Linked DNA regions of Homo sapiens: all the other regions are reported to be linked to region 1. The links are microRNA targets in miRTarBase. Many come from high-throughput screens and were not tested one by one. Region 1 holds a microRNA gene; each other region holds the end of a gene's coding sequence.
What was found. The annotated mature microRNA hsa-miR-4770 reads UGAGAUGACACUGUAGCU and lies in region 1 at 3,018-3,035, shown strand. An mRNA with a match to its seed (bases 2 to 7 or 8) in the 3' UTR can be bound and repressed. Matches are read on the target gene's strand: a 7mer-m8 pairs with bases 2 to 8, a 7mer-A1 pairs with bases 2 to 7 and ends in A, and an 8mer does both.

Region 1 (5,105 bases):
GGTCTCATTATGTGGAAGAGCATTCTGAGGTCCGGACAGGTTAAGTCACTTGCAGAGGTCACATGGTGAAGAAATGATGAAGCACCTTGCAGATCAGATGCTGGCTCAGCAAACCCATGTCTTCTTCATCCCAGGCACACAAGGCTACATGCACTTCCAAGCTTCCCATGTGCCAGAGGTCTTTGTGGAGCCCAGTTCTCACCAGTGGGGTTGGGTGGGGCGGTTGTGTGCTGTGTGCTACTTATGACATGCAAACCTTCACGCTCTTTTCTGTTCCTTGCTGGCTGCAATGGAAAAAATCCCCAACTTGTTCTTAGATGTCTCATGTTGGAGTTAGTAGAATCACAATGTAGAAGAAGTCTGGTTTCTAAGATCAGCCATTAACAAAAGCTCCCTTTTCAGTAATGCCCACAGAATAACATTCTCTGAACGAAGAAAGAGCGGACATAAACCCCTGTAATTTCTTCAGTTACTTGTGTTTTTCTGATGCCATTTATGTTCATTGAGCTACTGTTATTTGAGGCTGATCTTCAGAAGCCACTGGTATTACTGTAACTGATTCAGTCAGTGGATTAAATGTCTCACAACACGGCCATCTGCTAGAAATGGGGAAAGAGCAATGATGCCCTCAGGCTTTGACAAGCTTCTTGGCTGGCAGAAGAAAGTGGAGTCAGGCTTTGAGACTAGGGATTTAGGGGGGGAAATGAGGCCCCTCAAAGTTGATGATATCATAGCCACACTTTACTATTGTGCCTTGTACTGAATTTGCATGGAGATGGCATATGTCGAGGATTTCAACAGGGCTGCTAAGTTTCTCCAATTGCCTTTCCAATGATCAGCCAAACATCGTATTGGTCAGTACATATATGATTTTAAAATGTAGAATTAGAGAGAGCAAAATAGAGAGAGAGAAAGAAAGCTAACTATAAGAGATATTTAGATAATGCATGTTTTGCAGTGAGTTTGACATTATAATTGAATGACTTCAGACATTACAATGGCATCTACTAAAATGTTTTCCACAGGCTGAGATTGCTGCCTTGCCCTTGGTCTACCCCCAAGTTTCTCAACCATCCCACTGTCAGAGGCGTTTGAACCAGAGCAACTCCACTATCTTGAATAGGGGCTGGGGAAAGTAAGGCTGAGATCTGCTGGGCTGCATTCCCAGAAGGTTAGGCATTCTTAGTCACAGGATGAGATAGGAGGACGGCAGAAGATACAAGTCATAAAGACCTTGCTGACAAAACTGGTTGCAGTAAACAAGCCGGCCAAAACTCACCAAAACCAAGATGGCAACAAAAGTGACCTCTGGTCATCCTCACTGCTCATTATATGCTAATTATAATGTATTAGCATGCTAAAAGACACTCCCGCCAGCGCCATGACAGTTTACAAATGCCATGGCAACATCCAGAAGTTACACTACATGGTCTGAGAAAGGGAGGAACCCTCAGCTCCAGGAACAGCCCACCCCTTTCCTGGAAATCTCATGAATGGTCCACCCCTTGTTTGGCATATAATGAAGGAGTAATAATAAGTATCCTCGGTGGAGCAGCTCAGTGGAGTAACCATTCTTTTTTTTTTTTTTTTTAACTTTCTTAATCAACTTGCTTTCACTTTACTCTATGGACTCACCTCAAATTCTTTTTTGTGCGAGATCCAAGAACCCTCTCTTGGGGTCTGGATAGAGACCCCTTTCTGGTAACACCACTATTGACATTTGGAAGGAGATATTTCTTATGATGGGAAGCTGGCATGTGCCCTGTAGTATCGCTGGGCCTCTGCCTGCTAGATGCCAGGAACAACCTCCCAGCGAGGACAAATAAAAAACGTGTCCAGATATTGCTAAACATCCCTAGAGGACCCAGTTGCCTCTGATTTCCCTTGAGTAGCTAAGCATAGCCAGAACTTACATTTGTATAAATGAATGAAAGAAAGAATAAGTCATTTTCCTAACAATGGTTACTTTACATTTGAAACACTAGAGCCCTTTCCCCACTTCTCTTTATGAACACAGAGATCGCCTGGAAAAAGTCTATGCACTTAACCCTTCTACTAGGTGGCTTTGGGTATAGAAGAAAAAAGCCCCACACCCCGGAGCAATCAACATTTAGGAAAGTGAAATCACAGGAGAAAGAGGGTGTCATACAAGTCGCTACTAATTTCCTTGACAAACGCTGTTTTGAGGAGCACTGTTAACTCTCTGAAATCTCTGTTTTCTCCCTCCTGAAAGATTTTTAGAGAGGATTCCTTTCAAAATTGGGTTCCGGGACTCCGTGTTTCCAGTGGAATGCTGTCACCATGAGACCCCGTGACGCACTAGCCCAGGAATGCCGGCAATAGCCAAGCAGAGCCCTGTGCCTGTTCTCTTCCTGGCACAGAGGCACACAAAACCCAAGCAGGCCCACCCAAGTCAGATCCTGGGCTGTGGGAAAGCCTTAGTGAATGAGCTCATTGAAGTGGAGAGATGAAAATGAGGGAGCTCTGAAACTGGCAGGGCCTGCAGAGGATTCCTAGGGGCAATTCCTCTGCCCAGAAAACAAGGGAAGGGGCCTAAAGCCCAAACAAGGACCCTCCTGATTAGTAGGGAGACAGAAAGCTCCACTCTCTTCCCCTCGCCCCCGCCCCCCACCCCATAAAACAAAGCTATTCGGGATGCTTCAATTGCCAAGTAGTGCAACAAATCACTTTGCCAAACGTGAACTCTGAAGTCAGGGGTGCTCAGCTCCGGCAAATGCCACTCTATGTCTGCTCATCCATGCAAGACGCTTTGCAATGAGAATGTTTACACTAGCCCTCCGTAAAGCACACAGTTACAACCCATCAGGAGGTATGCAATCAGCAACCAGGATGCACTGTCTGCTCTGGGCTTAGAGGCTATGAGCTAGGGCCATTTGCATAACTGAGTCAATGAAGGTGGTGAAAAGGGTTTTGATTCCTATCTTGCATGTGGAATCTCATTCTCTCTTAGAGATAATGAGTTATGGGGTCATCTATCCTTCCCTTGGAAAATGATCTGAGATGACACTGTAGCTCCCCATCCTCTGGGATCATTGATGTCTGTAAGATTTTATAGGAAGCAATTGAGTTGAGTGTACCCCCTTTCCCCTGTCCTCAATCTAAGTGATAATCTCTGGCACCCCAAAGGGTGTCAGACTGCTTTGTTGATCTTAATTCTGGAATCCCTCTAATCCCTAACTGGGCTTCCCACAATACCAGTGCCCTGGCTTAAAGGAGGTTTGCAGTATGCACACATCTCTGAGGATGGCTCAACTCTCCTGGCCCCCAAGGAATTCCAGGTATTCCATCCCTCTTAATACCTCCTGAAGTCTCTTAACTTCCACCAGACATCTTGTAATTCAGCCTAGATGACCAGATTTGCGTTTGCACCTGTCAATCAGCCTTTCGAGTTCTTGATGGAGAGAATGGAAAACATTCCGTTCTTACCAGACAATTCCTCTCCATGCCACAGAGCTGGCAGAGCACCTAATAGTGATGCTGGGTAAAGTGGCTCTCCAGGGGCACTGGGCTGCTACAGTTTTGAGGACAAGCACCCACACACAGCCAGTGGGCCCCAGGGCAAGCGCACTGTGAGGCGTGAGACTCTACCCAGTAAAGCTGGAGCCTTCAACCCCATAACTCCACCAACATTTGAAAACTCCAATTGCCTCTGGAAGATACTGCCGCTTTCTTCTCCAGGAAAGCATCTTCTGTCTGCTGAGAGTAATATTGTGCGTGGAAAGTCCCTTACCACGTAGTGTTCAGACACTGGAGAAAGGGAGAGGGAGTCATCACTCTGAGAGAATCCACGAGAGATCTGTGAAGCTGATGGAATTTCAGGGCGCAGGGTGTCCTATTCATACAGTAGACCTGAGTGTGTTCTGCTCACATTCCAAAACAACAGGACAGGGGAGGTAAGGACCTATATAGAGAGCCTCTGCCTATATAAATCAGCTTTCCTTCCAAACCATAAAGCCAAGGAACACTAGAGCTGTGAATCCTGGGAAGCATTTTGATTTTGTGTTCTTTCACATCTGTCTCATTAACATACGAAATAAAGTTAGTTAGTTGCAGGTTGTTTCTTTTTAAAAAAAAGAACAAGACAGGTGTAAAATCTATAAACACCTGCTAGATCAGTAACTGCCTCTCAACAAGACCAGCTGGCACATCAACATCTCCAGGAGATCATATCTTAAATGTAAAGTGAACAGTTAATGTTCCTGAACTACCTCTTATTTTAAAGCCATAGGAAACCTTTTGCGGGGGGGTGGGGGGCATCTCCCCAAACTCCTGCGCATGACAAGAGCTCTGCACAAAAGATAGGAAGACCCGGTCACCCTAGGCCACCTCAGCAAGGCGGTTGGTTATGTTCTGCTGAGAAGCCATGGAGCGATTATGTGAAGAAAGGCTGTTCTCTTTACCGGTGCCAAGAAAAAGATTAGATAAGAAAAGGTCACTGGGGCAAGGAGGGGTGAGTGGTTGTTTAATTTTTAACAAACATTGCGCACTCCATAGCATGGCTGTTTCCCCCACTGTATGATGTTTCAAACATTAATTGAATAAAGGGATGGTCTAAGCAAAGGTAAAAGTAGCCCTAAACAGAATGTTCCTTTGTGATCGGCGAGAATAGTTTGGGACTACATAGTCATGGGGCCTCAGAAGGACAGAAAGTCTACAACCAAGTTTGTGTTTTTTAAATGATTAGATCCAATCTGTGGGTATTTGATAAGTTGCCAAAACATTTCTTTAAATGTGTCGGCTGGGTGCGGTGGCTCACGCCTGTAATCCCAGCACTTTGGGAGGCTGAGGTGGGAGGATCACTGGAGCCCAGGAGTTCGAGACCAGCCTATGCAACATAGGGAGACTCCCATCTCTACAAAAAAATAACAAAAAATCGCCAAGCGCCTATAGTCCCAGCTGCTTGGGAGGCTGAGCTGGGAGGGTCGCTTGGACTCAGATCAAGGCTGCAGTGAGTTATGATCGCACCACTGCACTCCAGCTTGGGTGACAGAGCAAGATCTTGTCTCAAAAAAAAAAAAAAAGGACAGATGTTGCAGGGATGAAGAGTAGGATGAGGTGGGTGGAGGACATCTTTGGGGAAATGA
Region 2 (5,105 bases), not on the chromosome of region 1:
GTCCTCTGTGTCCTAGGCTCAAAGCTAGGCACTCACATGCCTGGGTCCAGTTAATCTTTCAGAGGCTCTTTCCAAGCAGGAATAGTCACTGTTTCTACAGATGAGCTGGAGCCGGAGGAAGCCCAGCATGTCTGTGACTGGCCCAAGACCCATCACTAGTAAATGGCAGGCCTGGGATTTAGCCCCAGATGGGTCTGACTTGAAAGCACGGGCTCTTTCCATTACACCACACTGCTCCAGGATATGCCATGTAACCGCCACCATGCTGAGCTCAAGCCAGCACCCCAAGTGAGCCTCCCTACTCCACCCCAGCTTAGGAAAGAGGAACCTAACCTGGAGGCTGCAGGGAAGGGAGCAGTCTAAACATAATCCAAGGCAGAAAATTGGAGGTGGAGCAGTGGCCCTGGGTCTTTGAGCCTGGCCATCTGGGGGTGCGGGAGGCCCTGAAAGCATTTTTCTCTCAGCCCATGGTCTTGTCTTTCACCATTTCATCCACTCAGTCTGAAGCTAGGGATGGGGATTTGGCACCAGATAGAGGTGGGAACTCAGGAATGTGTCTCATGAGAGGGCAGGAAAGGAATGGGGAAGTGTCCTCTTTGTGCCTTGTGGGGTTCCCTTGGCTTTTGTCAATTGCACCCCATCGCATTGTCCCTGGTAGCACCGTTAAGAGGTCTGTGGCCCAGACTGACCTTTTGCTTTGTCATCTTTTAGGATCAGCTCATCAGGAACTCAGGATCTGGTACCTGCCTGACATCCCAGGACAAAAAGCCAGCCATGGCCCCCTGCAATCCCAGTGACCCCCATCAGTTGTGGCTCTTTGTCTAGGACCCAGATCATCCCCAGAGAGAGCCCCCACAAGCTCCTCAGGAAACAGGATTGCTGATGTCTGGGAACCTGATCACCAGCTTCTCTGGAGGCCGTAAAGATGGATTTCTAAACCCACTGGGTGGCAAGGCAGGACCTTCCTAATCCTTGCAACAACATTGGGCCCATTTTCTTTCCTTCACACCGATGGAAGAGACCATTAGGACATATATTTAGCCTAGCGTTTTCCTGTTCTAGAAATAGAGGCTCCCAAAGTAGGGAAGGCAGCTGGGGGAGGGTTCAGGGCAGCAATGCTGAGTTCAAGAAAAGTACTTCAGGCTGGGCACAGTGGCTCATGCCTGAAATCCTAGCACTTTGGGAAGACAATGTGGGAGAATGGCTTGAGCCCAGGAGTTCAAGACCGGCCTGAGCAACATAGTGAGGATCCCATCTCTACGCCCACCCTCCCCCCGGCAAAAAAAAAAAGCTGGGTATGGTGGCTTATGCCTGTAGTCGCAGCTACTCAGAAGGCTGAGGTGGGAGGATTGCTTGTTCCCCGGAGGTTGAAGCTACAGTGAGCCTTGATTGTGTCACTGCACTCCAGCCTGGGCAACAGGTAAGACTCTGTCTCAAAAAAAAACAAAAAAGAAGAAGAAAAGTACTTCTACAGCCATGTCCTATTCCTTGATCATCCAAAGCACCTGCAGAGTCCAGTGAAATGATATATTCTGGCTGGGCACAGTGGCTCACACCTGTAATCCTAGCACTTTGGGAGGCCAAGGCAGGTGGATCACCTGAGGTCAGAAGTTTGAAACCAGCCTGGACTACATGGTGAAACTCCATCTCTACTAAAAGTACAAAAATTAGCTGGGCATGATGGCACGCACCTGCAGTCCCAGCTACTTGGGAGGCTGAGGCAGGAGAATCACTCGAACCCAGGAGGCAGAGGTTGCAGTGAGCCAAGACAGCACCATTGCACCCCAGCCTGAGCAACAAGAGCGAAACTCCATCTCAGGAAAAAAAAAAAAAAAAAAAGTATATTCTAACAGACAGATCAGAGGTCTAAGAGATCCTCCCTTGCTATTATTACCTGAAGTCTGTAGAACTGTTTACAGATATCTCCTTGACAGGTGTCCTTTATCTTACTTTATCTGTACAGTAATCCTGTGAGAAAGACAGGACAGAAACCACTGTGCCTATTTTACAGATACGAAAACTGAGACACAGGTAAAGGGGCTTGTCTGTAGTCCCATAGCTAGCAGATGGCTGGAGCCAAGACTGAGGCTCGTTCTTCAATGCTGAGCCAGGGCTCCTTCCGCTGCACCACAAGAACGCTAGACCACTCGCCACCAGCCTTCTCATTCCCTCTTCCTCCATTCTAATCATTTCTAGCTGGCTGGCCTCCACAGAGCATAGGAAAACAGCCAGGGCCGGGCACGGTGGCTCATGCCTGTAATCTCAACACTCTGGGAGGCCGAGCCGGGTGGATAACCTGAGGTCAGGAATTCGAGACCAGCCTGGCCAACATGGTAAAACCCCATCTCTACTAAAAATATAAAAATTAGCCAGGCATGGTGGCGCACACCTGTAATCCCAGCTACTCAAGAGGCTGAGGCAGGAGAATTGCTTAAATCTGGGAGGCGGAAGTTGCAGTGAGCCAAGATCGCGCCACTGAACTCCAGCCTAGGCAACAAGAGCAAAACTCCATCTCCAAAAAAAAGAAAGGAAAAACAGGGCCAGGTAGCCATTGTGGAGAGAGCACACTTAGGAATCCTGGGATGTTAGTGTTAAAAGAAAGCTCCTGGAGCCAGTGATTCTCAGGTTTGTCCCAGAACCCTTTTTTCTAAGCCCCATATAAAAGGTAGATTAAAAAAACAAAGTAGCATGAGTGAAATTGAGAGAGGGACAGGTAATGCCTTCCAGCCCCTAACTTCTAACAATCTGGAAGCACAACGTGAAAATCACGTAGCCCAACCCTATCATTTTCATATTATGAAACTGAGTCCAGGTAAGTGAATCTGTCCAAGGTCACCCAGCAAGGTATCAGTAGCCCTGAGGGTAAGGACTCTGATAAGGCTCGGGAGGGTCCTGGAAAGCCTGAGGCGGCAGGAAGAGTGTGCAGAGTTGAGCGTGTCTGGAAGGCTGATCCACTGCTGGGCCCACATCAAAGCCCCCATGGGGAGCAGACCCGACTGCACATGGCTCTTTTGCTGGAAGAAGAGCATGGCTGCGCAGAGGACTAAAATTTCATCTGGGAAGGCTTCTTTTGACTGTCAGTAGCAGGATGTCACCAGATGAGGGTGCTATGGGACCACAGCTGTCTTTGTTCCCATTGCAACTCAACCCTGCGGGAGGCCGCCTACATCCCTGAGAGCCTTCTGGAGCCTACAGAGGAGACATTGGCCAGCCAAAAGGAAAGGAGTGGCCAGGGTACGACCTGGAGTAGGGAAGGGAAAAAGTTCCCGGAAAGAAGAGAATTGGATGAGAGGTCTCAGTGGAAATAAAGGTTTTCTGGCATTGGTCAAGGAAACTCGCGTTGTGTTCTCTTACCTGTGTTGTCCCTTAGCTGAATCAGTTGATTTGGGCTATGAAGAACCACACACATCTGAAAAGTTCTGTTACAGCCACTGTCTCATGTCCCCAAACATTCTCTGGCCCTAAATCTAGCTTATGTATTGTGTCAAGCACGTGGAGACGTGAGACGTCAAACGAGGTCCTGTCCCCGTGGAACTCACACGCTAAATGTAAGCAAATCATAGCAAGCCTGGAGATGCTCCAAGAGGTGCTGGATGAGTTAGAAGGAGCAATTCCTTCCACTTAGGGAATCAGATAAGGCCTCACAAAGATGGCAATGTTTGACCTAAGACCTCGGAAGATGAGTCCTCAGATGGGAAGGGCTCAATAAGCAGAGTTGTTACACAGGCAGCAGCCTGGCAGGAGCAAAGCCACAGAGGACATGTGGCCCCAGTGGGTCTGAGAAACCCAGAGGACATTGGGGTGAGGGAGTGACTGGTGTAGAAGCTGGAAGATCAGAGTTACATCATGAATTTCAGGGGCCCTAGGCACTTTAGCCTTCACGGAGCTCTTGCTCCATTCAAAAAAAAATTAATGTTATGACTATGTTGGTATAAAGATGAATGTAATCCAGGCTGATTGGATTTACTTTATTTCTTCTGGTTTTAAAAGAAGCTAAAACATTTCTATGGGCCCTGGGCACTGCACCTGCTGTGCCTACTGGGTAACTCAGCCCCGTACAAGAGTGGGTTGGGGCCCAGTTGAGAGAGGCTTTGGTAGGTCCGGTAAGCCACAGGGAGTCGTGGAGCCTAACCCTAGCCTTATTCTTGGTTGCATTAAATATCCAAACGTGGATCCCAGTATCCCTCATACTGTCTATGGTATCACCCAACAGCTCCCCAGCCTAATCATATGATGTAGCCCAACCAAGGTGCCCAGCTGTGTCAAGAAGGTTCCACCTGCCCCCAAATAGCATAGCACTTCCCAGGCACAGTCAGCCAAGAGCTACTCGCAGGGAGTGGGAGATGCAGCAGGAGGGAGACACAGGCTGTGTCTAGAGAGGAGGTCTGGGTTCAGGGATGAGGGGAGGACTAGGGAAGGGAGGTGGTGGAGAAGAGGGAGAAGGCACTGATGGGAGTGGTGGGAAGGCTCAAGAAACTAGCTTTGGCCAGGCACCAATGTCTGACAACTGTAATCCCAGCACTTTCAGAAGCCGAGGCGGGCAGATCACTTGAGGTCAGGAGTTCAAGACCAGCCTGGCCAACATGGCGAAACCCAGTCTGTACTAAAAATACAAAAGTTAGCCAGACGTGGTGGCAGGCGTCTGTAATCCCAGCTACTCGGGAGGCTGAGGCACAAGAATCGCTTGAGCCTGGGAGGCAGAGGTTGCAGTGAGCTGAGATTGTGTTTCAGCCTGGGTGACCGAGTGAGACTCTGTCTCAAAAAAACAAACAAACAAACAAGAAACTAGCTTCTTCATGGCATTTTCCTTAGTCAAGCCTGGCCTGGCCCTAACAACACCCGTATTCTTCCTTAAAACCCACCCCTCTGACCACTCTCAGCTAACCTAAGGCCCCTACCTCTTAAAACCCTGCTGCTAGCCCTGTGCTACTATCTCCCGGCTCTAGGAGTCTCTCACTCTAGCATTAAAGAGCTAGGCCTCTCTGGGGATCTGTTTCCCACATGAAGAGTACTGGGGCCATTGCCACAAATAGCTAGATGTCCCAGAATTTATTCTTATTTTTAATTACCAAAGTAATACTGTGCCAGCCTGGCCAACATATCGA
Region 3 (5,105 bases), not on the chromosome of region 1:
CAGGAGATAATAGGGTCCCAGAAGTGTGTCCTGCCTACACTAGCTTCTTTTTTAAACCTTTGAACCGTCTCTGTTTTAGTACAGGTTGACAATCCCTAATCTGAAAATCCAAAATGCTCCAAAACTTTTTGACTTTTTGTTTTGGTTTGGTTTTGGGTTTTTTTTTTTTTTTTTTGAGACACAGTCTCGCTCTGCTGCCCAGGCTGGAGTGCAGTGGCACAGTCTCGGCTCACTGCAACCTCTGTCTCCTGGGTTCAAATGATCCTCCTGCCTCAGCCTCCCTAGTAGCTGAGACTACAGGTGTGTGCCACCACAGCCGGCTACTTTTTGTATTTTTAGGAGAGACAGGGTTTCACCATGTTGGCCAGGCTGGTCTGCAACTCCTGACCTCAAGTGAACCACCCACCTCCGCCTCCCAAAGTGCTGGGATTACAGGCATGAGTCACCATGCCCAGCCTTCATTTAGGAAATTTTTAACTGTAGAGATGATACATTAAGGTAGAATAAGCATGGGCCCTAAACCTAACACTAGGCTGGGTTTAAATCAGTTTCAATCTTGCAATGAGTACTTACTTAATATCTTGAACTCCATCTTAATAATGAGCCTAATAATACTTGTATTTTTTGTAAGAAATGGAGATAATGATTTTAAAGGGACAGTCATGGAATAAACCTTTAATAACGTGGTAGTTCTTGTTTACTAACTTTGTTCCTTTATTACAGGACATTTTCTACATTGAAAACCAAAAGGAATATGAAAATAAAAAAGCTGCTAGGAAGAGGAGAACACAAGTGTTGGGGAAAAAGATGAAACAAGCTATTAAAAGTCTAAATTTTCAAGAAGATGATGATACATCACGAGAAACTTTTGCAAGTGACACGAATGAGGCCTTGGCCTCTCTTGATGAGTCACAGGAAGGACATGCAGAAGCCAAGTTGGAGGCAGAGGAAGCCATTGAAGTTGATCATTCTCATGATTTGGACATCTTTTAAGTACATTTTCAACAGTTTGAGGACTAAGCCTTTCTAAAATAACATTGTAATAAACCATTTTTACTGAGATTGCAACGTTTTGCACTGATAAACATGAGAATCTGGAGGAAAGACAATTGTTTTCTTGTTTAAAATATGTGTGGAAAGGAATGCAATTGATAGAACATTTAAAGATATATCTGACAAAATACTTAAGAGTATATAGCACAGGATTTAATTTCTCAATCTGTTGCATGTGCTAATTATGAGTATTACTAGTTGATAATCAGTTTTGTCTAGGTCATAACATACCATTTGTAAGTTTGTTTGCTTTTTCAGGTTTATCTTTGCAGTGAATTATGCTTTGCTTTAAAACATTCCGCTAAAATCATAATGGGACATATAAATTATTAAGCTGTTAGAAATGCATTCAAATTTGTTTTTTCTGTGTTCTAAGAACTCAGGCAATTTTAAGGATAAAAACTAACATTGGCCAGGCACGGTGGCTCACGCCTGTAATCCCAACACTTTAGGAGACCAAGGCGGGCAGATCACTTGAGGTCAGAAGTTTGAGACCAGCCAGGCCAACATGGTGAAACTTCATCTCTACTAAAAATACAAAAACTAGCCAGGTGTGGTTCTCCATGCCTATAATCCCGGCTACTCGGGAGGCTGAGGCAGGAGAATCACCTGAACCCGGGAGGCAAAGGTTGCAGTGAGCTGAGATCGTACCACTGTACTCCAGCCTGGGCGACAGAGCAAGACTCTGTCTCAAAAAAAAAAAAAAATACAATTAAGAGGTGTATACTGATGATTCTTCCCACTCATTTGTTTGTCCAGAAGTAAATAAATGTCGGAAGTTTTCCAAGTAACTATTTGTTTTTTGGGGGGTTTTTTAGTTAGAGTCTTGATCTGTCACCCAGGCTGGAGTACAGTGGCAGGATCTCAGCTTACTGCAGCTTCCATCTCCCAGGTTCAAGCGATCATGTGCCTAAGCCTCCTGAGTAGCTGGGATCACAGGTGTGTACCACCACGCCCAGCTGATTTTTGTATTTTTAGTAAAGACTTTCGCCATGTTGTCCAGGCTGGTCTCGAACTCCTGGCCTAATGATCTGCCCACCTCTGCCTCCCAAAGTGCTGGGATCACAGGCATGAGCCACCGAACCCAGCCTTATTCTGCTTAAATTTAACGTGTTTTTTGACTTCTTAATTAACTTGGTCATATACTAAATGTGATCTCCTGTGGATTACCACATGCATTAAAAAATTTTTCAAGCTGGGCCTAGTGGCGCACACCTGCAATCCCAACACTTTGGGAGGCCAAGAGAGGAAGATTGCTTGAGCCCAGGAGTTTGAGACCAATCTAGGCAATGTAGTGAGACCCTGTCTCTAATTTAAAAAAGAAAAAGAAAAAAACATTCCCAGTGGCAGCCTGCCTAAGACTGTCTTACCTTATGTTAAGGAAGTCAGGTATTTAAAATGTTACATATGCCGGCGCAGTGGCTCATGTGTGTAATCCCAGCACTCTGGGAGGCTGAGACAGGTAGATCATTTGAGGTCAGGAGTTCAAAACCAACCTGGTCTACATGGTGAAACCCCATCTCAACTAAAAATACAAAAAATACAAAAAATTAGCCGGGCGCGGTGGCTCACACCTGTAATCCCAGCACTTTGGGAGGTGGAGGCGGGTGGATCACAAGGTCAAGAGATCGAGACCATCCTGGCCAACATGGTGAAACCCTGTCTCTATTAAAAATACAAAAATTAGCTGGGCGTGGTGGCGCATGCCTGTAGTCCCAACTACTAGGGAGGCTGAGGCAGGAGAATCACTTGAACCCAGGAGGTGGAGGTTGCAGTGAGCCGAGATCACGCCACTGCACTCCAGCCTGGCGACAGAGCGAGACTCCCTCTCAAAAAAAAAAAAAAAAATACAAAAAATTAGCCGGGCATTGTGGTGCATGCCTGTAATCTCAGCTATTTGGGAGGCCGAGGCAGGAGAATCACTTGAACCCAGGAGGCAGAGGTTGCAGTGAGTCGAGATCGTGCCACTGCACTCCAGCCTGGGTGACAGAGCAAGACTTTGTCTCAAAAATAATAATAGTAAAATGTTACATGTGCATGAAGTTTTAAATTACTCATTTTTATTAATGAAGAAAATAAGGTAGTTTAGACATTCCAAGAGTTAACTATAGTTTACAAAAATATATTAAGCAAAAATATGCTTGATATATTAAGCAGAAATGTTGTATATTAAGCAAAAATGTAAAATTCAGCAATTATAAACTGTTCCTTACAGACAGTGTACTTGAAGTCTTTTGGTAGTTCTGAGAATGTGGTCATTGAAGTTGGATCTAAGAGGAAAGTGGTTATCGGTTGCTTTTTATTTATAAAGGATGCAAAAATAAAATTAGATTTTTGGCAGTCCTTAATGAGCTTCAAGTGATTATATTTTTAAATCTTGAATGTTTTTTCATAAAAATGCTATAGCCAAGAAAAATATTTTTAAAAGGTAATTGGATATTGACCCTAAGACAATTTATGGGAGGTGATTTTAGAAATAGTACATTAAGAAAGATAATTATTCTGAATACTTAAATGCCACATATTAATGTAAATATTGCCAATTTTTCTAGCAAAAGTTATGCCTTTTAAAGGGCGTTGATGCCTGAAGCTACTTTATCTTCATCAAGATTGTTTCTTCCCCACACCTTCCTGGTTTTTTAGCAATAGTTGTTTTTTTTTTTCTTTTTCTTTTTTTTTAAGACGGAGTTTTCACTTTTGTTGCCTAGGCTGGAATGCAATGGCACCATCTCAGCTCACTGCAACCTCCGCCTCCCGAGTTCAAGCGATTCTCCTGCTTCAGCCTCCCAAGTGGCTGGGATTACAAGCACACGCCACCACACCCAGCTAATTTTTTTGTATTTTTAGTAGAGACAGGGTTTCACCATGTTGGCCAGGCTGGTCTCAAACTCCTGACCTCAGGTGATCCACCTGCCTCAGCCTCCCAAAGTGTTGGGATTACAGGCATGAGCTACCACGCCCAGCCAATAGTTGTTTCTTTAACATTTGGAAACCACTCAGATTTCTGGCTTGTGTTGCATCCTACTGCCATACAGAAAGCAGTGCTTCAATTTTTAAGGTTATTTCTTTTTTTCAAAGTTTAGGTTTTTATTGAATATGCTGTAAAAGAGGTTTAGTCAAAAAGACCAAAGCCCATGTCCTCATCAGATTCCTCGGATTCTTCTTTCTTTGCTTCCACTTTCTTCTCAACTGAAGCAGCAGCAGTGGAGGGGGTAGGATCTCCAGCTGCTGCAAGTCCACCAGCCCTTACATTGCAGATGGGGTTCCCGATGCTGACATTGGCTAGGGCCTTTGCAAACACGCCAGGCCAGAAAGGTTCAACATTTACACCAGCTGCTTTAATGAGGGCATTGATTTTATCATTATGCAGAATGAGGGCCGAGTAGATGTAGGCGAGCTCGGAGAGGGAGGCCATGGCACGGGTGTGTGTGGGGCTGGCGCTGCTGGATGAGGTGCTAATCGCCGGATGAAGTGAGGCTCTCACCCCAATGTGGCCTTAGCTTCCTTGGAATGACCAAGCACCTTGGCAGCAGCTGAGGAAAGGGCAGTTTTTAAGGTTCTTTAAAAATTTATCGGCCCGGCATGGTGGCTCATACCTGTAATTCTAACACTGGGAGGCCGAGGCAGGCGGATTGCCTGAGCTCAGGAGTTCGAGACCAGCCTGGGCAACACGGTGAAACCCCGTCTATACTAAAATACAAAAAATCAGCTGGGCATGGCAGTGTGTGCCTGTGGTCCCAGCTACTTGAGAGCCTGAGGCAGGAGAATTGCTTGAACCCGGGAGACGGAGGTTGCAGTGAACGAAGATCATGCAACTGCACTCCAGACTGGGCACAGAGCTAGACTCCATCTCCAAAAATATAATAAAAAATTATCTAAGATGACTCTGAACCTTTCTGGCTATCCAAATCAAGATGTGCAAACTGTTCTTAGGTATGTATTCTTTTAGTTTATGCTCTCATCAAACCAGCATATCTTGCAGTAATTCTTCCTGCTTAGCCTAATAATATTTTTTCTACTTGCCAGTGGGTAGGACTTACACTAATAACCAT
Region 4 (5,102 bases), not on the chromosome of region 1:
CAAACCCACCTTGCTGAGGTTTCCCCTGCAAGGGAGCAGAAAGGAGATTTGCAGCCTTCCTCTCCTGGGGGAGACAGGGATCAGGAGAAAGAGCTTAAGGTCCTAGAATTGTTCTTTGAGTATCAAGGGGAAAAAAACCTGACCAAAACTGTGGGCAGTCCTGAGGGACAGTATGGCAGCATTTGAATTCACCCTACAGACATCTGAGAGAGAAGTATTTATGAACACTTCTGTTATCACTTGGGGGTGGAGTGTGTGTACGCATTTGTGTGTGTTTATAATTCACCAGTCCCCTGGGATAGTAGAGGATTCCAGTTAGGTAGACAGCAGCATAATGATTGAATGTCTGGGGTTAAGGCCTTGGGTTCAAGTCTAGCTATGCCATTTATAGGCTGGTGCAAAAGCAACTGCAGTTTTTGCCATTACTTTCAATGGCAAAACCGCAATTACTTGTGCACCAACCTAATACTTCTCTCTCTTGAGACCTTTGGCAATGTATTAAATTATCTAAGCCTGTTTGTCTAGAAAAACAAGTGCGCAGGCAAACAACAACCCATCTGATCCTGTGTGTTGTTAAGGAAATGAAATAATGCAAGGTAAGGACTAGCACCGTCCTGGCACATGGCATAAAAACCTGGTAAATGTGAGCTCTTGAAATGGAATCTGTACCAGAATCTCTTTCATCTTCTAGGACTTCATGTTATACTTGGTTCTGCTTTTCTGTCATTTTTTTCTCTAGATTAGAGCAGCTACCGTTGTTGAGCTCCCTGAAGAGTTAGAGGCATTGCTTTAATAGAGTCTGTGTCAGAAGGCTTAGTGGCTATGGGTCTAGCTGATATTTTCCTTTTTCTCTGCCCCCTTCCTCTTCTCTCCATCATCTGCCATCTCCTATCCTCATATTCCACCAACTCTGGTCCCCTCCTCACTCCCCTTCAATTTGGATCTGGCACCATATGTTTACGGATCAAGATAATTTGTTGCCATGGAGTTTGATTGCCTATTGCCAACTTAGGCCCCATCTATGCAGCTGAATTTCTCAGCTCAAACCAAGCCCATGCTTGTGATGGGTCTCTAAGATTTTGGGTAGTATCCTGGATATCAAAATGTCTATATCTGTATGATGTACTTCTCCTGCCAGAGGCTTGAAAGTAAAGAAATTGGGCTATATTTGCCTAATTAAGTTGTGGGTGGACAATCCTTATGTCTGTCTCTTGGTCTCTCTTGGCCACCTAACATCTCAGTTTTCTTAAACTGTCCCAGTTTACTCTGTTGTTCTAAAGAAACCATTAACAACATCCCCTTTCTCTCTCAACAGTGTTCTGTTTTGGAAGATATATTGTAAGGTCACCCTGTCTTTTGGGATTGGCATATATTTAAGCCTCTTTTCAAATATGGAAAAGATGGTGGGTTACCAGGCAAAAGTTTTTCAGCACAGTACAATAACAAGAACCGTGAGAAGGAAGGTCAGAGTCAAGTTTCAGAAACAGTGCTTCAGAAGGTTTTCTTTCTGTAGTGCAAACAGGAATGTGTTTTTATCATAGCAAGTAGTGCTTTGGAAGACTTGGAAGAGGCTTGCCGCACAATTGACATTTTATGTGGTCAACCCTTATTCAATGGAAAAGTATAAGCTAAAAATATTCAAGGGAAACACACACACACACACACACACACACTCCACATGTTGTTGATGCTTTTGAAACCTCTCCTCTTCTTTTTCTCACCTCACTTTGTGTGACTGGGTGGAATGCATCTTCCACAAAGTGGTGTGAATGAGAAATCTAATAATACTCAGAGCTCAAAGGAGCCGTCACAGCTTGTTCATCCTAAGATTGTGCAGCCATGTTCAAATACAATAGAAAGAAAGCATCCTAGGAGCTGAGAGGGGAAACTCTTAGCTTTGTTGGCGTCAACTATCTCTATCTGAACAGAAGAGACGCAAGCTGGTGTAAGTGCCACATGCTGTCAAGCCGTGACAGTGACATGGGACCACAATGGATAAAAAGAGACAATGAGCACATGTGGCTGCAAAGGCTGGACTGCATGTGGAATAATGCCTTCATCTACAGCAGCTGCAGCTACGGTGGAAATTCAGGGCTCCTCAGGCAGGCCTGAGGAACTAGGTTGACAAGTTCTCCCCTACTTGAGAGAGGAATATACATTCTTGTCATTACTCATGGTATCCACCATGTGCTAATCAACTCTTTCCCTTCCGCATTCTAAGAAGGGACACAGGACCATAAGAAAGGCAATGCAAAATGCTGCCACCTGGTACATGGCTGAAAGGGAAAGGATAATACAAACGCAGAAGGAAAGGATAATACAAACGCAGAAGGGAGAGAAAGGCCAAGAAAACAATGGGTAGTTAATGTTTCTGCTTTATCTAGCAACAGCCAAGCCAGGTTTCCTAGGAAGTTGTGAACCTGCTGACTCTGAATGATGGTGTGATTTATAGTCAGCTCCAGGTTGTCTGTCTTTGACATTCCATTCACTCACATATTTGCATATTCAGAAGCTGTACGAGCACAAAAATATTAATATGAAATCCAATATACGTTACAGTAGAATGACATGTAATTTATTCATATAACTGACAATTAGGCAGTACTCAAAATTCATTTAAATAAGCAAGTGGTTACACAAACATCTAATAATACTAAAATTGATAGTCAGAAGGTATAAAATACCATGGGTATGAAATGCCATGGTAAATACTATTCAACAGACTACAATCATAATTCCAAACTAAATCATGGTTTTTAAAATGATTTTTAGCAGTTCTGGAACAATTTGACTTTTCCCTTTCTAAGCAACTTACTTCTTCCACTGATACAAGACAAGGTCGTTATTTTCAAGAAATATCGCAGAGTGACTTAGCTTAGGTTGCTCTCTTGAAACACATTTTCTTGCAAATTGTTTTTTAATATTGCCCCTTGACATAGAAAACAAACTAGTCAGCACTTAGTTCCCCAAGCAAATATGCTTGGATCAGAACAGTGCCAGGGTGTAACCCAGTTCCGCAAGAGGCAGGCAGTGAAAAACCTTTTGCAGCTTTTGAAATATGCTTATTTCTTTTCTGAGGCTTCAAGCATCATACACTTAGGCATCCAAGCCAATGAAGTTATGGGAATAAAATAGTTTGATATACAGATGACTATGACACAATTGCAACTGGGGTGAGGGGAAGTTACAATATAATTTTGCAGTACTTCAAACAAAAACAGCTCCTACCTAAAGTTACTTCTTGTAAGCCTCATGAAGCATAGCTATGTTTGCAGGAACAGTTTGGCTTATCATGTGTCTGTCTGTACTATTTTATTTATTTATTTATTTATTTATTTATTTATTTATTTATTTATTTATTTATTTTTGAGATGGAGTCTTGCTCTGTCGCCAGGCTGGAGTGCAGTGGTATGATCTCGGCTCACTGTAACCTCCACCTCCCGGGTTCAAGCGATTCTCCTGCCTCAGCCTCCCGAGTAGCTGGGATTACAGGCACCCACCACCACGCCCAGCTAATTTTTGTTATTTTTAGTAGAGACGGGGTTTCACCATGTTGGCCAGGATGGTCTCGATCTCTTGACCTCGTGATCCGCCCGCCTCAGCTCCCCAAAGTGCTGGGATTACAGGTGTGAGCCACTGCGCCCGGCCCTGTTTTGTATTATTTTAAAGTCTTATACTTTATCAGAATGAGGTCCAAGCATGAACCTGGCTTGAAGAGCTAGCAGCAGTAGTCATGAAACATTTCAATAAATTAAAAGGCTTTCACAGAATGAGATTCAGCTAAACCTCTTACATACAAAATACAGCTAGAGAAATACAATTCTTTAATGCTGAATTATGAGGGAGAGGAAAAAAAGTCTAAAAAAATAGAAAACTCTCTCCATACCTGGGTATCAAGGCAAGATGTAACACTGCATAATGCCACAATATGAGCAGTCACTGGATGACAGATACTCCAGAAACAGTGGTCTCTGGGGATCTCGGAATTATGACCAAGAGATGAAAACACTGTACCAAAAGGCATGCATACAATCACTGTGTGCATTCAATGCGTGAGCTGCGACCTAAGCAGAGATCTAACAAGACAATGAGGCAGTGTTCCAGGGTATCCATTAAAACCGGCGTGGGCAACTACATGTTGATTAAACCTTCCGAGGCAGCAAAATGTGGGCACAGCGCCATGTCTGGGTTCTGCAGCTGTTTGATGATCCTCTTGCGGAATTTCTCCCTCACACGATTAAATTCCATTATGTCCATGGGGTCCTCTTCGATCCAAAACTTATGAAATTCATGCATCAAATAGCCTGTTGGAGACAATACAATGATAAGAATGCAGGAGAAAAAAAAATCCTTAATCACATTCAAAATCATTCTGAATGCTGAGGAAGATGCTGAACCAAGCCACAGCAACCGTGGAGCTCAAAGAAGACCTCAAAATCTAGAAAATACCACTGTTTAAGATTATTCTTTAAAATCAGTGCAGTTGAAGCCTACCAATCTGCAAGCTTTTTGCAATTGGCCCTGGAATCATTCTCACTCTTCCCAAGCAGGAAGACAAATCAGTTCTGCCATCTCTTGAGTATGAATCGCATCGGGAACATTTTCTGAAAGGCTGACAGTGACTACTTCATCCTTCTCCTCCTAATTAAATTAATGTGACGGTCCAACTTTTCAAAATCACTCCACTCGGACTTTATTCTCTTGATATTTGATGTAACTAAAGTTTTAAATTACCCCGACAAATCAAACAAATGCATTCTGACACTCTATTATGAGACAATAAAAATTGTAAATCAACCCTGAACAACACAGACTGGTCGTTAAACCACATGAAATTGTTAATAAGACTTCCTTGCTCTGAAGCAATAATTTCATATTCAAATCCTTTGGTGTCTCAAAAATGCTATCCACGAGTGATCTGGATTGAAACAATTTGGGGAATAAATGTTAAGTATTTGATATAAGAACCTATTCATTGTGCTTTGTTCCCCATTATGCCCCCTCCCACTACCACATTTGTTTAATTATTTTTATCTACCACATTTAGTATTGAAATATGCATAGTGTTTTTTTTTTAATACTAGATACTTGTAGGTAGTAAA
Region 5 (5,105 bases), not on the chromosome of region 1:
AGATTCTTGGTTCTATTTATTCACTTCCCACATTATGTCCAATGCAACTTCATCACAATAGGCCTCTCACTTATCATTCTCTTAGACTGAAAAAATGGAGGCTCCTGAAAAATGTAATATCTTCCTCATATTTTTTAGACTTTCATTTGCACATAAAACAGGACAAATGCCCCAGAATTCCATTAAAGTTTCTTGCAAATCGGATAATCAAACTGCCTGGATTTATATTATTAGAAGTCAAGACAAGCAACTCCGCTGTCAAGAGAAATTCGCAGAGGTTGTTTCTTTAAGTTCTAGGCTAAATTCCACCCCCAACCCTTTTTTCTAAAACTATAAAATATGATGTTTATCTCATGGATAAATTTGTTTCTTAGACTATTTTTTTTTAAATCACAGCACAGCAGGAGTTAAAACAAATATCCTAAACATTACCTTGAATCATTTAAAAATCCTTTTGATAAACCAAGCTAACTAGAGGCAGGTATACAGTTAACAGCTTGACCCCTGAAGGTACATTCCATTTCTTCCTTTAAAAAATATTAACTGTTAAAGAGGTAGAAAAACTCTTGAAGTTGAACGGTAAAACTGTCCCTTTAAAGCAAATGTAAATAATGACTTTCACAGGTTCACTATCTAGTTTGTCACTGAACTTTCATTACAGAGTTAGAAGGAACATTTATAGCCCAGTGAGGTTAGAGAGGAGAGCCAGCCTGAGTTTGTCATTTCCCAAATGTTCTAGAGCAAGTACCAAGTATAGCTCAGTTAAGGAATTTCCAATAATTTTTCCCTGGAAGAAAAGGGTTTTCACAATACTTACACAGGTTCCTGCAGAGACACGTGGATGTTTAGGGGGGCTCATCCGTTACTTAAGTAACATACTGTGCACCTATATCTTATACTCTTAAGGGCCCATAAATCACATCCTTGATGTATTCTGAAAGAATAAGTGAAAGTACCAAAAAGAATTCTGTAACTCACTCTTAGAATCTAAAAGATGCCTGTAACCATGAGCAAATGCCTTTCTGAGCTGGAGGCTGACATGCCAATTAGTGCAGTGTCGTCGGAATCTAAACTGCTTATTTTAACACAATGCCCTAAAAATACTGACATTTTGGTTTGACAGTTACAGGAAAGTTAGCTAAAGGATATTTTCATTACTATATTTCCCAGAGTTTAATTTAGAAGGCTTCCTAGACCAATTTTCCTCCTTGAGAACAGAAAAGAAATACATACAAGACGTAAAGAGAAGTTCTGAAATTAAAGTTGGTTTCCTTTCCCTTTAGATATTTAAGAATAAGAGGAATTGACAACTTCAAGAAGGACACCAGCCCACATAGAGGAGGCGCTCAAGCCTCTCACACAAAAGTCCCGATCCTTCCAGACATCCAGAAAGTGCGTACACAATGGGAAACAGGGACTTCAAACAACATCATAAACGGGTCACAAGAAAATAAGTTACTTTGAAAAGAACTAAATCTTTCACCTGCTTCGTGTAAAACTTATTCTGACCACGGCTGACAGGCAGGTGATGGACACTTAATCATAATCTTACTTTATGTTCTTTTAATCACCAGATGATGGTTAATTAGTTATCATAGAATCAGAAAAACACTTGTGTGAGAGTTCTGGAGACCATTGGTTTCTAGGATTGGACGCCTGCAAAGAGCTTATTTCAATTTCTCCGAAAAGAATCAACATACAGTAGCAGCTAATTAATAATTTTTCTCTTCTGTTCAGTCCTGAGAGTTTTAAAAAAATGGCCCTGTATCGTAAGAAAACCAAACATGTTTATAGATGGGAGTATGTCTCAATTCCTTTGAAATATAGCCTCTTCTCCATAAGAAATTATTATAAAGAAAATATGAAATGTGTATTAGATCATTGCTTAGTCAGCTTAATAATCCAAAATGTGTTCAAAATGAAACACTGCTTCTGACTTTAGTATTCATCTTTGCATTTTAGAAGCAAATAAAATAAGTGAAAATATTTTTTCCCTGCTTTCACTGAGTATGGATTATGGATCTGAGAGAGCAATTTTTTGTTGTTGTTGCTAAGCATTAGAAGGATATTACACGAGAAACAGTGCCGAGTCAAGTTCTTAGACAGACTGATGAAAATGAGGGAAGAGGCCCGAGAAATGCATAAGTACAAGCTTCATATCACTCATTCTGTTAATAAAACATGTGGCTATAATAAAACAGAATCACACCCTACATATGGGAGGGAGGGTGAGAAATCATGAAATCAGCAAAGGGCTGATGAGATGGACCCACATTGGGCTCGGTACAGTAAAACATCACAGTAAGATCAGACACATCCAGATGCCTCACCAGTTAAGATGAGCTCAGAAGACCTTGCCTTTCCCCATGCACCGAGACACCATGCAATCACCAACAGCTACTGGTGGGTGTGGTGGAAAAAATGTGAAGGTCATAGATTTGCACCATCTTTTGGTAAAATAAGACAGAAAGGGTCGCACATGCTTTGCCTCTTTGGTAATGAGTCAAGCAACCTCTGTTTTTATTTTGTTGTCATGGAGATAGAGGCCCAGCAGTGGGAATTCTAGGGACACACCAGGGTGGTGCCCGGATGCCTGGGATCCATCTGGATGTATACAGAAGAAAGTCAAACTACTTTAGGTGTAAAGCGCCTGGCTCTGGGAATCACATGGCTTCTCTAGGAGCTTGCTAATTTAGCACCGGGGAGGAAGCAAAATCCTAGGGGCATGGAGCATCCACATGTCTTTTAAACAAAACGAAGTTAGAATTTTTACTAATGACATTCTTTTTATATGATTTCAGAAGATAAAAAAAATTCCAAATGCTTAAGATATACAACAGGGAAAAGGGAATTGTTTTTTATTTAATCTGAATTATAATTTTCCCATTAAAATCTATCCATATTAAGTGGGGGGCACAAAATAATACCAATTATTTTTTAAAGTTTCAGCTGTTCAGTTTCAGGATAGCTCTGAAAATACAATTTAGTTTGAAATTCAAGCTGTTTCATTTCCTATTAAATCTTGTAAATTTCCTTCCCCTACAATACTCAGGTTGGAAGGGTGCCAAATTAGACCAGGAACAAATTTTCACCAACTTCACTTCAATGCTTTATTTTTAGATGATATTAAAAACCTCATTAGGCTCCCTGAGGGAAAAGAGTGTTAACCACTAACAGAGGCAGGGGAAAAATAAAGGAAACAGAAAGATAAGCTAAATTGTTAACAAGGAAAGCTCCTCAGTTGGTCTGAGGATGCTGTACAAGCTAAAAGAAACTTATTACCAAGACCAGGTAAATGACTTGAGGTTGGAGCTTAATCTTTTACCCTCAGGCTAGTAAGGACTAGTCAGGTTTGTCAAAGTGGCATATGTCTTTATTATGATTTCCAGATGGGATCTGGTGGGAGGCGGGTGGGTAGAAGGGAAGGCAGAGAAACCTTTAAAGATTGTAAGCTAAGTGCTCTATACCTTTATACAATACCAATGTGCTTGAGTCTCCCGTTAAGAGGCTGAAAACTGGGCAGGCATACGCAAGACTGGGTGCGAGATTCAATGGAATGTCAAATGAAACTTAGAATTTATTAATGTATTTACATAATTTATAATCTTTAAGCAATGGCCCCATAAATATAGACTACAACTTTACATATGCTAAGCAATAGATACTTGCTTTTCCCCACCAAAATACTTGGGTTAAAAAAAAATTGACAGCATTTATACCACCTTCTTCACTTCCACTCTTCTTCCTTTTTAAACCATTGCTAGTCATTTTAGAACATATGAAATTCAGTTTATTCCGGGCAGCTTCTCTACCATCACCATCTTGATCATGAGAGCTTATTTAAAAAGGTGCCAATAACGTGTTTGGTGGCACACACATGACAAGGTCAGAAGCAAACCCAGGATGAGCTAGGCATCTGCTGCTATCATTGTTAATTTACTGTACGTATCCTAGGCTAACATGTTCAATGAAAAGTGCTTTAGAGATGGCAGAGATGAAATCATTTCCATCAGTCCTATAAATAACCCATTTTAGCTTCAGACAATAATTGTCCTCCCTACACTTAAACTATCCTACTATATGTTAAATGATACAACTCCCTCTAACAGTGGTAACAGAAACCAAGGAAATTATAATCTCCACAAGGTCTGTTTCTTTTCCCTTAAGAACCACAAAAGTGCTAATTTTCCCTTTACAAATGTTACATAAAATCTTGATTACAAAACTACTCAACAACTTAATCCTACCATCCATACAATTATATGTTCCTTTTCAGCAAGGTCAAAAGCCAACGATGTAGTCCCTTTGTACACTAGAGATTCTTTACATAATAGAAGTTCACAGACTGAAATATCATTGCTGCAGTCTTTGGAGAACAGAACTGGTCCATTTCTGTGAATCCTTTTTGCACGGAGAAGACTCAAGACTGGCTAGGTGAAAACTGGTGGCAGGGACCCCAGCCCTCCTGTTAACTTTCAGGACCACCTACTTCATCATCAAGTCTGAGAGGCTGAGGTTCGGTCAGCAGCAGCTCCGCTTTGGCTCTGAAGGCTGTCTTCGGAGTTTGAAGCCCTTACCGCCAGATGGCAGGTTGGCGTCAGTGGATGGAATTCTTCGACCTAAACCAAGATGAGAAAAGGGAAGGGAGTGAGCTTTAACTTTCTCAGACACAACAATTTTGCAGATGCAATTTGACAGGTTTCACTGAAGTAAAAAAAAAAAAAAAAAAGTTTAATAAACTTTTTATACTCGAATAATTTTAGATTTATAGAAAAGCTGCAAAGATGATAGAGCTCCTGTGTACCTCCCACCCAGTTTCCCCCAGTGCTGACATATTACCATGGGACATTTGTCAAAATGAAGAGTTCAACATTGCCACATCACTATTAACTCCAGACTTTTTTCAGATAGCATCAGTTTTTCTACATGTCCTGCTTCTGCCCCAGGATCCAAACAAGGATATCACACAGCACTTAGTAAACGTTTTTTAATTAAAAAAAGCCACACATCAAAAACATTTTGTTTTGAGTAGGTAATACATAGGATTTGTTTTTTAAAAAGTTCAGTCAGAACATGGTTGTCCCTCTGTCTCATGACAAGGCCAC

Region 2: miRTarBase lists GALNT6 as a target of hsa-miR-4770. Seed matches in the 3' UTR shown: 7mer-A1 at 1,812-1,818.
Region 3: miRTarBase lists PHAX as a target of hsa-miR-4770. Seed matches in the 3' UTR shown: 7mer-m8 at 1,573-1,579 and 7mer-A1 at 2,571-2,577.
Region 4: the mRNA of ELMOD1 is a reported target of hsa-miR-4770. Seed matches in the 3' UTR shown: 7mer-m8 at 3,997-4,003 and 7mer-A1 at 3,368-3,374.
Region 5: the mRNA of RAB22A is a reported target of hsa-miR-4770. Seed matches in the 3' UTR shown: 7mer-m8 at 3,992-3,998 and 7mer-A1 at 2,260-2,266.

Annotation. Positions count from the first base shown.
Region 1 is chrX:6,381,837-6,386,941 of GRCh38, reverse strand. It overlaps MIR4770 (microRNA 4770), which reads left to right and starts at 2,979; the gene lies at 2,979-3,036.
Region 2 is chr12:51,350,099-51,355,203 of GRCh38, reverse strand. It overlaps GALNT6 (polypeptide N-acetylgalactosaminyltransferase 6), which reads left to right. Exons shown (of 12, transcript NM_007210.4): 12 at 712-3,952. The coding sequence ends at 825. Among named protein-coding and RNA genes, the nearest start is that of CELA1, 6.0 kb to the right of the region's middle.
Region 3 is chr5:126,623,852-126,628,956 of GRCh38, forward strand. It overlaps PHAX (phosphorylated adaptor for RNA export), which reads left to right. Exons shown (of 5, transcript NM_032177.4): 5 at 724-3,401. The coding sequence ends at 993. It also overlaps the pseudogene RPLP1P7. Among named protein-coding and RNA genes, the nearest start is that of SPMIP10, 5.3 kb to the right of the region's middle. RefSeq lists a silencer at 952-1,152.
Region 4 is chr11:107,664,227-107,669,328 of GRCh38, reverse strand. It overlaps ELMOD1 (ELMO domain containing 1), which reads right to left. Exons shown (of 12, transcript NM_018712.4): 12 at 2,550-4,304. The coding sequence ends at 4,132. Among named protein-coding and RNA genes, the nearest start is that of SLN, 45 kb to the left of the region's middle.
Region 5 is chr20:58,359,120-58,364,224 of GRCh38, reverse strand. RAB22A (RAB22A, member RAS oncogene family) reads right to left here. Exons shown (of 7, transcript NM_020673.3): 7 at 1-4,619. The coding sequence ends at 4,522. Among named protein-coding and RNA genes, the nearest start is that of VAPB, 28 kb to the left of the region's middle.